2 separate regions of the Homo sapiens genome follow, and region 1 is reported to be linked to region 2. The links are microRNA targets in miRTarBase. Many come from high-throughput screens and were not tested one by one. Region 2 holds a microRNA gene; the other region holds the end of a gene's coding sequence.

The links. Region 2 holds the annotated microRNA hsa-miR-4745-5p (UGAGUGGGGCUCCCGGGACGGCG, at 1,300-1,322, shown strand). A microRNA usually pairs through its seed, bases 2 to 8, with sites in the 3' UTR of a target mRNA and lowers its output. Matches are read on the target gene's strand: a 7mer-m8 pairs with bases 2 to 8, a 7mer-A1 pairs with bases 2 to 7 and ends in A, and an 8mer does both.
Region 1: miRTarBase lists ZNF516 as a target of hsa-miR-4745-5p. Seed matches in the 3' UTR shown: 7mer-m8 at 1,691-1,697.

Annotation. Positions count from the first base shown.
Region 1 is chr18:76,358,702-76,363,212 of GRCh38, reverse strand. ZNF516 (zinc finger protein 516) reads left to right here. Exons shown (of 7, transcript NM_014643.4): 7 at 656-4,511. The coding sequence ends at 715. Among named protein-coding and RNA genes, the nearest start is that of ZNF516-AS1, 130 kb to the left of the region's middle. RefSeq lists enhancers at 334-833, 834-1,335.
Region 2 is chr19:803,642-807,641 of GRCh38, forward strand. It overlaps MIR4745 (microRNA 4745), which reads left to right and starts at 1,299; the gene lies at 1,299-1,360. PTBP1 (polypyrimidine tract binding protein 1) reads left to right here. Exons shown (of 15, transcript NM_002819.5): 4 at 395-567; 5 at 651-797; 6 at 891-1,061; 7 at 1,188-1,298; 8 at 1,372-1,546; 9 at 1,851-1,928; 10 at 2,767-2,915. RefSeq lists an enhancer at 1-116.

The DNA of each region.
Region 1 (4,511 bases), not on the chromosome of region 2:
ATGCTATTGTTCAAACAGGGATGCTTCAAATGTCATTGGAGAGCATTCTCTGAAAGCTGTGGACCCCCATTTATGCTTGGTTTTCTCTCGCAGTTCACTTTAGAATACTCCTTCCCTTTTTCCAACTTGGTAATTGTTTATGGAAATGGGTGAACACGCTCTGAAGTTCTGACAGACCTACGTGAGAGCCGTGCTCTTCTTTTTGTTTGTATGACCCCCAAATTCAGCCTTGTTTTGGAACTACCGTTCACTTGTAAATCTGCTTTGTACTATACAGTTTTACAATCTGGCCGCCTCCTCATCTTGCCAACTTGTAACCTTCTCTCCAGAGCTGGTTCAGACACTATCATCTGCCATTCTTACATGTGAAACCATTAGAGAAGCCTAATGATCCTTTCTAAATCACACTGGAAATGATTCGTTTTCAAGCTGCCTCTCTTTAAGGCAGGAAGGCACATTTGAAATACTTGCTGCTCATTTTATGAAATGAGTTACAGCTCAGGTCAGGGGGTCTTCGCCTACTTGGTTGGCTTGCTTTGTGAAGGTCATTGTTTGTGTTCTTGGATGTTGATTAGAAAATTAATAGGAAAAATGCATTTAGAAACCAAAAGGCAGAAATGAGCTTTTCTCCTGTTCTTTCCTTTTTCTCACCCAGGGGAGAGACCATTCTAACACAGGTACCGTCCAGACAGTGCCTCTGAGAAAGGGAACCTAAAGGCGTGTTTCCGACGCACCCCAGGTCCCCGTAACGGCCATTAGCAGTACCCTCACGATGTCCCAGCAGCCTCCCACCTGTGACCTGGCCGCTCCATGGAAGAACAGCCGGGGAACTCCTGAGCAGACACCTCACATCCCGAGCCGCTGCGCTGGAGTGGAAACTGAAGGCAGATGCCTCTCCTTGTTAAACGTTCAGAAATAAATGAAGATGCTATATTCTAGAAATACATGTAGATACTATATACGCATTTACGTGCTCATCGTCCATAGTCCCATATTTTCTTATAATAAACAGTAGTACTGGCAGGCACAGTAGGGGCACAAGGCATCTGTCTTATTCAAGACAAGTTTGAGACACTGGAAAAAAAGATACTTGTTGTGTGTGTTGGACAGAGTGGCGAGGCTGAGCACTGTCACAGGGGCCTCCCATGTTAAGAGGGACTGTGGGGATGATGTCAGAACAAGACGTGGTGGATTTGAGGTTGATCGAGTATTAATACTACTGCCTCTCCTTGTCTTAGTGGGTATTTAAAATAGTAAATAAGAGAGAGGAAGGAGGTGACGTTCAGGTGCTGTGGGAAGCAGGCTTGGCGGAGGGGTATGATGATGAGACCCTCATTGTTCACTGGCTCCATCGCACTCCTCCCTGGGGCCGTGTGCCTGTTCCATTCTTCCCACCATTCGAACTGAGCGAATCTGGCAAAGGAGACACGTCTGTGGGAATGCGTAGATTCCGCCTCGGAAGAGAGCTAGCGCAACACTAAGAAAAGCAGGCTTCTTGTTTATTCTCAGGACCTTTTTGTAACAGGGCTACATTCTGCAAACTGCTTACAAAGGAAGACTATACGTCTTAACAAATTATTTAGCCACTGAGTCCTCCCGATTCGGACCTGTTTTAGTAATGGCAGAAGAATCCCTGAGCAGGTTCAGGTGCCCTAGATGACTAGGGTGCTGAGCTCTGGCGCCTTCTGTCCCCACTCTTTGCCTCCCCGCCCCTTCCCTGAGCCACCCCAGCAAGTGGGTGTCTTTTCTCCCTGGGCCTGGTGACCTCCACAGGATGAGTGACTTTGTTCATAAAGGGTGGGGATCACCAGCCCCTTGGGTGGGGGACGGCTTCATATACCTCTTCCTCAGTAATGCAAATGCGAGTTTTTGTGGTGGGGGTTAAGGCCCATAACAAAGGATCTTAAACCATGCAGTGTACGCAATTGAAATGGTATTCCACAGATATAAATATTTTCTTTTCCCATTGCCGTGACACTATGTGTGATGGTAATATTTCTGAGAGTTTCAGATTTTTGCACATATGATTTTATGCATTATCAAAAGTTACTGCTGCCTTGAATGAAAATGTTCTGTGAAATTTTTTGCAAAAGCTTTACTAGGTTTTTTTTTAATTGTGAAATTTTGTAAAGGCAGGAAATGGATTAAAACGAGCATGCTAAATATATTTTTCAAAAAAGCAATAATTTTACATGTACAGAAATTATCCTAACCTTTAATACTGGCGAGAGCAACAGTTTACTTAATACGGTAATGGACTAGTGCAGTTTTTGTAGACAGTGGGCTTCTGATACAAAGTCTTGTTTAAACACAGACACACACACACACAAACACACACACACACCCTAAAGTGTGGGTTTCCTGTTCTAATGATTTGTTGAATATTATTATATTATTATTATTATTATTATTATTATTGTTATTGTTATTAGTAATGTTTGGTTCTGGATTCTACTTGTTACTGAGTTTAAATTACTTGACGGTTCAGGTTACTTTGCAACACTTTCAAACGATGCAATGTAACTGGCTAGCTTATATATATATATATATATATATATATATATATTTTTTTTTTTTTTTACTTATTTTTTTCTGATATTCTTACACCAGATATGTACGAAAATGATCTGTCCTGTTGGTGTAATTAGGAATGTCCATGCAGATACAGTTAAACAACTGTAATTGACTGTTCTGTAAAGTTATTTTGGGCAAAGTTGCGGAGACACATTCCTCTGTCCACCTAAGAAATCAGAAGACTCTTCTGTTGATTTATGTTTAATCATTTCAGTAGTTTCCCCACAGTGATCATTTCTGCATTTTCTGGCTTTTGTTTTCTTGGCTGAAAGTGAATGGTGACTGTTAGGAATGTCAGGGACTAGTGACCCAGTCCTGTTTCTCTGTGTTTTAGTTATTAAAAAGAAATTCTGTACCCAAAGTGACACGAAAGTGTAGTCTACATTTTTACTGTTTCAGAAGCGGCATGGAAAAGTGCAGTTGGCCTTTGGAGCTGGAAGTGTCTTGCTGGTGAGGCTCCATCCTGGAGGCTCTGGTGGGGAGTGGGCTGGCGCTGGGGCCCTGCCGGCCGCGTGCTGGATCCTTCCTGGCTTGCAGGAGAGCAGGCGTGGAGGACAGTCAGCTTGCGGGGCCGCGCAGGGTGCACAGAGTGCAGGAGGAAGGTTTTCACCCAGTTAAACAGACTGGGGAGCCCCCCCAAGAACGCCATCCCTTGAGGCCAGCTGTGGGCAGGCCTGGATGTGTGGTCCCTTCCTTCCACCCATCGTCAGTATTGTGTTGGTTTGTTAATTTGTTGATTTGGTCATAGTATTTAATATGATTTGTGTTTCCTTATTTATTTAGCCACCGTTTTGATTGCCTTTTTTTTTCCGAATGGTAATTTCTGCATGATACACTTCTGTACGTTGTCTTCTGACTGTTACAGACTTTCTACTACCTCTCCCGATCTGCTGTTTCCTTGTTTCTTAACAGGATTTTTTACAGTGTTGCGTCTAATGTAACTTAGACAATAAAGGGTTTGGTTGTCTACACTGCAGCTTCTCGGTGTCTCTCCCCTGCTTTCCGCTCGCTGCTTCCCGCTCTGCCCCTGCTGGGGCCTGGCTGCACCCTGGCCTGCCTTCCTATACTCTCCTGTTTCCTGCTCATATCTCTTCCTCATTTTTGCGTTCAAATAACACACAGCTAATGAGCTTCTAAAAATCTTTTCAGGTTGTTCACTTGTATTCCTTAATTTGAAGAATGAATATTTAAATTCTCTCAAAAGTCAGATATTGAGGATCTTCTCTGGGAAATTGGCCACTGTACCTGCCCACCTTTCTGCCTGGTTCCCTGGAAGGTCTTATTGTCATCTTAGACGGACAGATTTCATTCTCAGCACCATACAGATTTGGCTTCAAAGCCAGGTGAATTTTGCCTTTGAGGCTCTGAAAAGTATTAAGTGTTTTAAGAGGTCCCCCAATATTTACTTATTTATTTTTTAAACCAAGAAAGACACTGGTTCCCTGAAAAGCAGGTGCTTCAGGAAGTAGCAATTGGGAGTTGCATACAGTTACTTCGTCAGAGAAAGGAGCGCCCAGTATGACAGGCCCCCACCCCTGATCCGGCCACTGTGCACAGGTCGCTGAGGGTGTGAGAACACCTCTGCAGGGGCTCCGGCACATGTGGGTTTCATCGTCTCACACTCCTTCAGGCTGCAGGGGTTGAGTGCAGAAAGGGCAAGCTTCATCTCCATGGTGCCTCTCCAGGCTGGCAACTCTGGTCGGCCTCTGTTCTTTGGACAGAGAGGGTGTAGGTTACAGGGTCAGTAGGGATGCTTTCTGGATCAAAGAAAGTGGGTGTAGTGCTTAGTCTGTTGTGTGGAAGAGGGCACCTCCTGGGCTTTCGTGGCTGGAGACTGTCTACCAACATTCCTTCCTTCAAACTAGACAAACCCTCCTCTGCCACCCCCAGCAAATTCTCAGAGGTTTCCAAGCTGTAGAAAAAGGAAGGAAGGAAGG
Region 2 (4,000 bases):
GCCGGGACTCGGCCCAGGGCAAGACCCGTGGGTGTCTTTCCCTGGAACAACGTTACGTTCTTGTTCTGGGACTCTACTTTCCATCTCCAACTGCAGGGGCCCATGGTCCACGCTACAGACCCAGGTCCAAGTTCTCGCTGCAGAGAATTTCCAGGGAGGCGCTGGATGGATGGTCCAGGCTGGCACTTGGACCTGTGGGCGGGTTGTCAGGAGCTGTCGGGAGCAGGGGTCCTGACTGTGCAGGTCTTGGCCTCTCGCGCTGCTGGTTCACATGCACCCTCCTGGGGCTCAGGGTTGGTCTCCGTAGCAGGCAGGGCTCTAGGGGGATAGCAGGGACCTTCCTCTGTGGGCTCCTGCGAGTTGGTGCCTGCATCTCATGGCACCCCCTTTTCAGCAAACGGAAATGACAGCAAGAAGTTCAAAGGTGACAGCCGAAGTGCAGGCGTCCCCTCTAGAGTGATCCACATCCGGAAGCTCCCCATCGACGTCACGGAGGGGGAAGTCATCTCCCTGGGGCTGCCCTTTGGGAAGGTCACCAACCTCCTGATGCTGAAGGGGAAAAACCAGGTACCTGAGCCGCGTTTCTCCGGGGTGCTCACACCGTGCAGGCGGGGACGAGGAGGGCCCAGCGCTCACTGCCTCCCCAACAGGCCTTCATCGAGATGAACACGGAGGAGGCTGCCAACACCATGGTGAACTACTACACCTCGGTGACCCCTGTGCTGCGCGGCCAGCCCATCTACATCCAGTTCTCCAACCACAAGGAGCTGAAGACCGACAGCTCTCCCAACCAGGCGGTGCGTGGCCCCGCGGCGGACCCCAGCAGCCCGGGGACCTCGGGGGTGGGCCCAGCCGCAGGGGCCGGGGACTCACGGCTGTGCCTCCCACAGCGGGCCCAGGCGGCCCTGCAGGCGGTGAACTCGGTCCAGTCGGGGAACCTGGCCTTGGCTGCCTCGGCGGCGGCCGTGGACGCAGGGATGGCGATGGCCGGGCAGAGCCCCGTGCTCAGGATCATCGTGGAGAACCTCTTCTACCCTGTGACCCTGGATGTGCTGCACCAGGTGAGGTGGTCCCATCACCGCCAGGGCAGGTCGGCTGCTATTGCTGTGGGCACAGGCACACGGGAGGGGCCTGGCAGGGCTGGTGGGCACCGGGCAGGAGCTCATGCTGTGGCCCGGGACCTGCAGATTTTCTCCAAGTTCGGCACAGTGTTGAAGATCATCACCTTCACCAAGAACAACCAGTTCCAGGCCCTGCTGCAGTATGCGGACCCCGTGAGCGCCCAGCACGCCAAGCTGGTGAGTGGGGCTCCCGGGACGGCGCCCGCCCTGGCCCTGGCCCGGCGACGTCTCACGGTCCCTCTCCCCTCAGTCGCTGGACGGGCAGAACATCTACAACGCCTGCTGCACGCTGCGCATCGACTTTTCCAAGCTCACCAGCCTCAACGTCAAGTACAACAATGACAAGAGCCGTGACTACACACGCCCAGACCTGCCTTCCGGGGACAGCCAGCCCTCGCTGGACCAGACCATGGCCGCGGCCTTCGGTAAGAGGCTGCCCGACGCGGCGCCAGTGTGCAGAGTGGTCTATTAGGGCCGCTCAGTCCGGAGCCCCGGCGGCACGGGCCCGGCCCTGCACCAGGGTGATGCACCTGCTGCTCTCTGCACGGCCAGCACAGCACGGTCCAGTGTCCCCCACGTCGGGACCACGGCCCCCCCTGGAGCAGCGGATCTGCCCGCGAAGGCTCTGCCGGGGCCGCCCGCCGGCCGGGTTGGGGCCCATCCCGCAGCACAGCGCCCGCTCGCGGTGGAGGTTGTGGGTGCGATGATTAGTGTCTCATTTATTTCTAGGTGCACCTGGTATAATCTCAGCCTCTCCGTATGCAGGAGCTGGTTTCCCTCCCACCTTTGCCATTCCTCAAGCTGCAGGTATTCAAACGCTTGGTCTTGGTTCCCCAGCGACTGCATGCCCACACCACCTTCCCAGGCAGCTCCGCATCCACGGCGGCAGCCTGGGCGGACTGGGCACTCGAGTGCCAGGTCAGGGGCCCTTCCCGGGAGAGGGGACGCCACGTCCACAGAGCAGGCTTGGCCAGGGCAGTGGTAGGACAGGGCTGTGGAGGCCCACGTGTGGACGGCGCCAGCCAGAAGCCGCTAATCGCACAGTCTTTGTGGTCTGGTTCCCTTCAAGCACCTCCGGGCGAGCGCGAGGACCGCCAGTGGTTGGAGGGATGTCTCTAGTAGTTGAATTTGAGTGGCCTGGTAAGCGCGCGGCCCGAGGCTGAGCAGCATGACCGGCGGCGGGACGTGTGTGCGTGGCCGTCCTCCCGCTTCCCTTCTGGGACCGGGGCCCGGCCGCCCCAGTGCTGGCCGTGGACGGAGCAGCGCGTGCCGCCCGGCGGCCGCCTCGTCTGCATGGAGGCATGGGCGCGCATGCGCGGTGGTCCCGGGACGGGCCCTGCTTGCCGAGGGCCCCGTGTCTGTGCTGGCGGAGCCGGAGCTTTTCTGTGCTGTGGGCGGGGCGCATGCAGATGAGCCCAGGCCCGGCCCGGCCCGTGCTGTGAGGAGAGGCGGGCGCTGGTGCAGGAGCCGGCGGGTGGCTGTGCGGGGGTCGGACGACCCCACAGGCACCCAGGGTAGGGCCAGAGCCAGGGCCGCCTCCCGCGCGGCTCGGCTCCTCGGTGCATGAGGACGGGGAGCGTCGGCCTCTCCCACTCTGCGGTGGAGTCGGGGGCGCCGCCGCTCATCTCACCTCCTGCTTTTCCAGGCCTTTCCGTTCCGAACGTCCACGGCGCCCTGGCCCCCCTGGCCATCCCCTCGGCGGCGGCGGCAGCTGCGGCGGCAGGTCGGATCGCCATCCCGGGCCTGGCGGGGGCAGGAAATTCTGTATTGCTGGTCAGCAACCTCAACCCAGAGGTACGTGGGCTTTTCCTCCGCGCCGCCGTTCCTCCCGGAAGAGCGAGCAGGGGATGTTGTGCTCGGGCTCGGGTCCCGGAGCAGCGCCGCCCCTCGCTGTGTCTGCGCCTCTGCCCTGGCAGCCCCTCTGCTGCAGCGCTGAGACCCTCCTTTTCCAAGATGGCTTGAGTTTTCCTCTTTTCCTGAATTCACATCTTGGTTCGCGTTTTCTCTTGCATGATACGCAGAATGAATTATTTTTTGGTTACCCAAAGGCAATCTAAAAATTACTTGGAGCTGAGCAGGGCGCGCAGTTCAGAGCCCCAGCAGGCCGCCCTGCTGGTCAGCGGGACACACAGGGTTAGCGCGGCGGGGTGTGGGCAGCCCCTGTGGCTCGAGAGCCTGTCACTTAACTGGTGGATCCGTTATTTCCCAGAATGGTTAAATTCCCCTCGGGGAGAGCTTGGGTGAAACAAGAGGCCCAAAATATGTAACTCTTGATGGATGGGATCCTCCTGGAATCAGCATTTCAGGCTGTTCTGTTTCCCGGCAACTCCTGTGACTTCCTCAAGGCGGTGCCCAGCCTGGCCCTCCCTCGCGGGGGCCCAGGACGCACTCCCTGCCTGTGCCTCTTACCACGAGCCGGGTGCTGTCCCTCCAGCTCCTCCTGAGCGAGGCCGTGCACTAACAGACTCGATCTCCCTTCACGCCTGTAATCGTCCTTAGAGACTGACTTGTGCCACAGCTGCGGGAGACAGCGCTGCTGCAGGGCTTGGCTGAGGTGGCCGCGAGCGGAGCTGCACGCGCGCTCCTGGGGGGCGTGGTTGGGATCGGCTTCTGGGAGCCCCTCCAGCAGCGCTGTCTCTGCCGGCATGTGAGTGAAGGTGCTTCTCTTACCGTGTGCCCGTCGAGGTAAACCTGTAACTGGAATGTGTGTGGAGTGTGACTGATAGAACACTACCTGATTCTTATGTATTTACTGACCTGTGTTTTTTTGCTACTTTTTTTCTTTTCTCCCCTTCCCCTTTCCCTATTTTTTTTCTTGCCCTGATCCGGAATTTCTTTGCCAACTGACTGCACGGTACTTCTGCTTCCTGTTGTTGCTT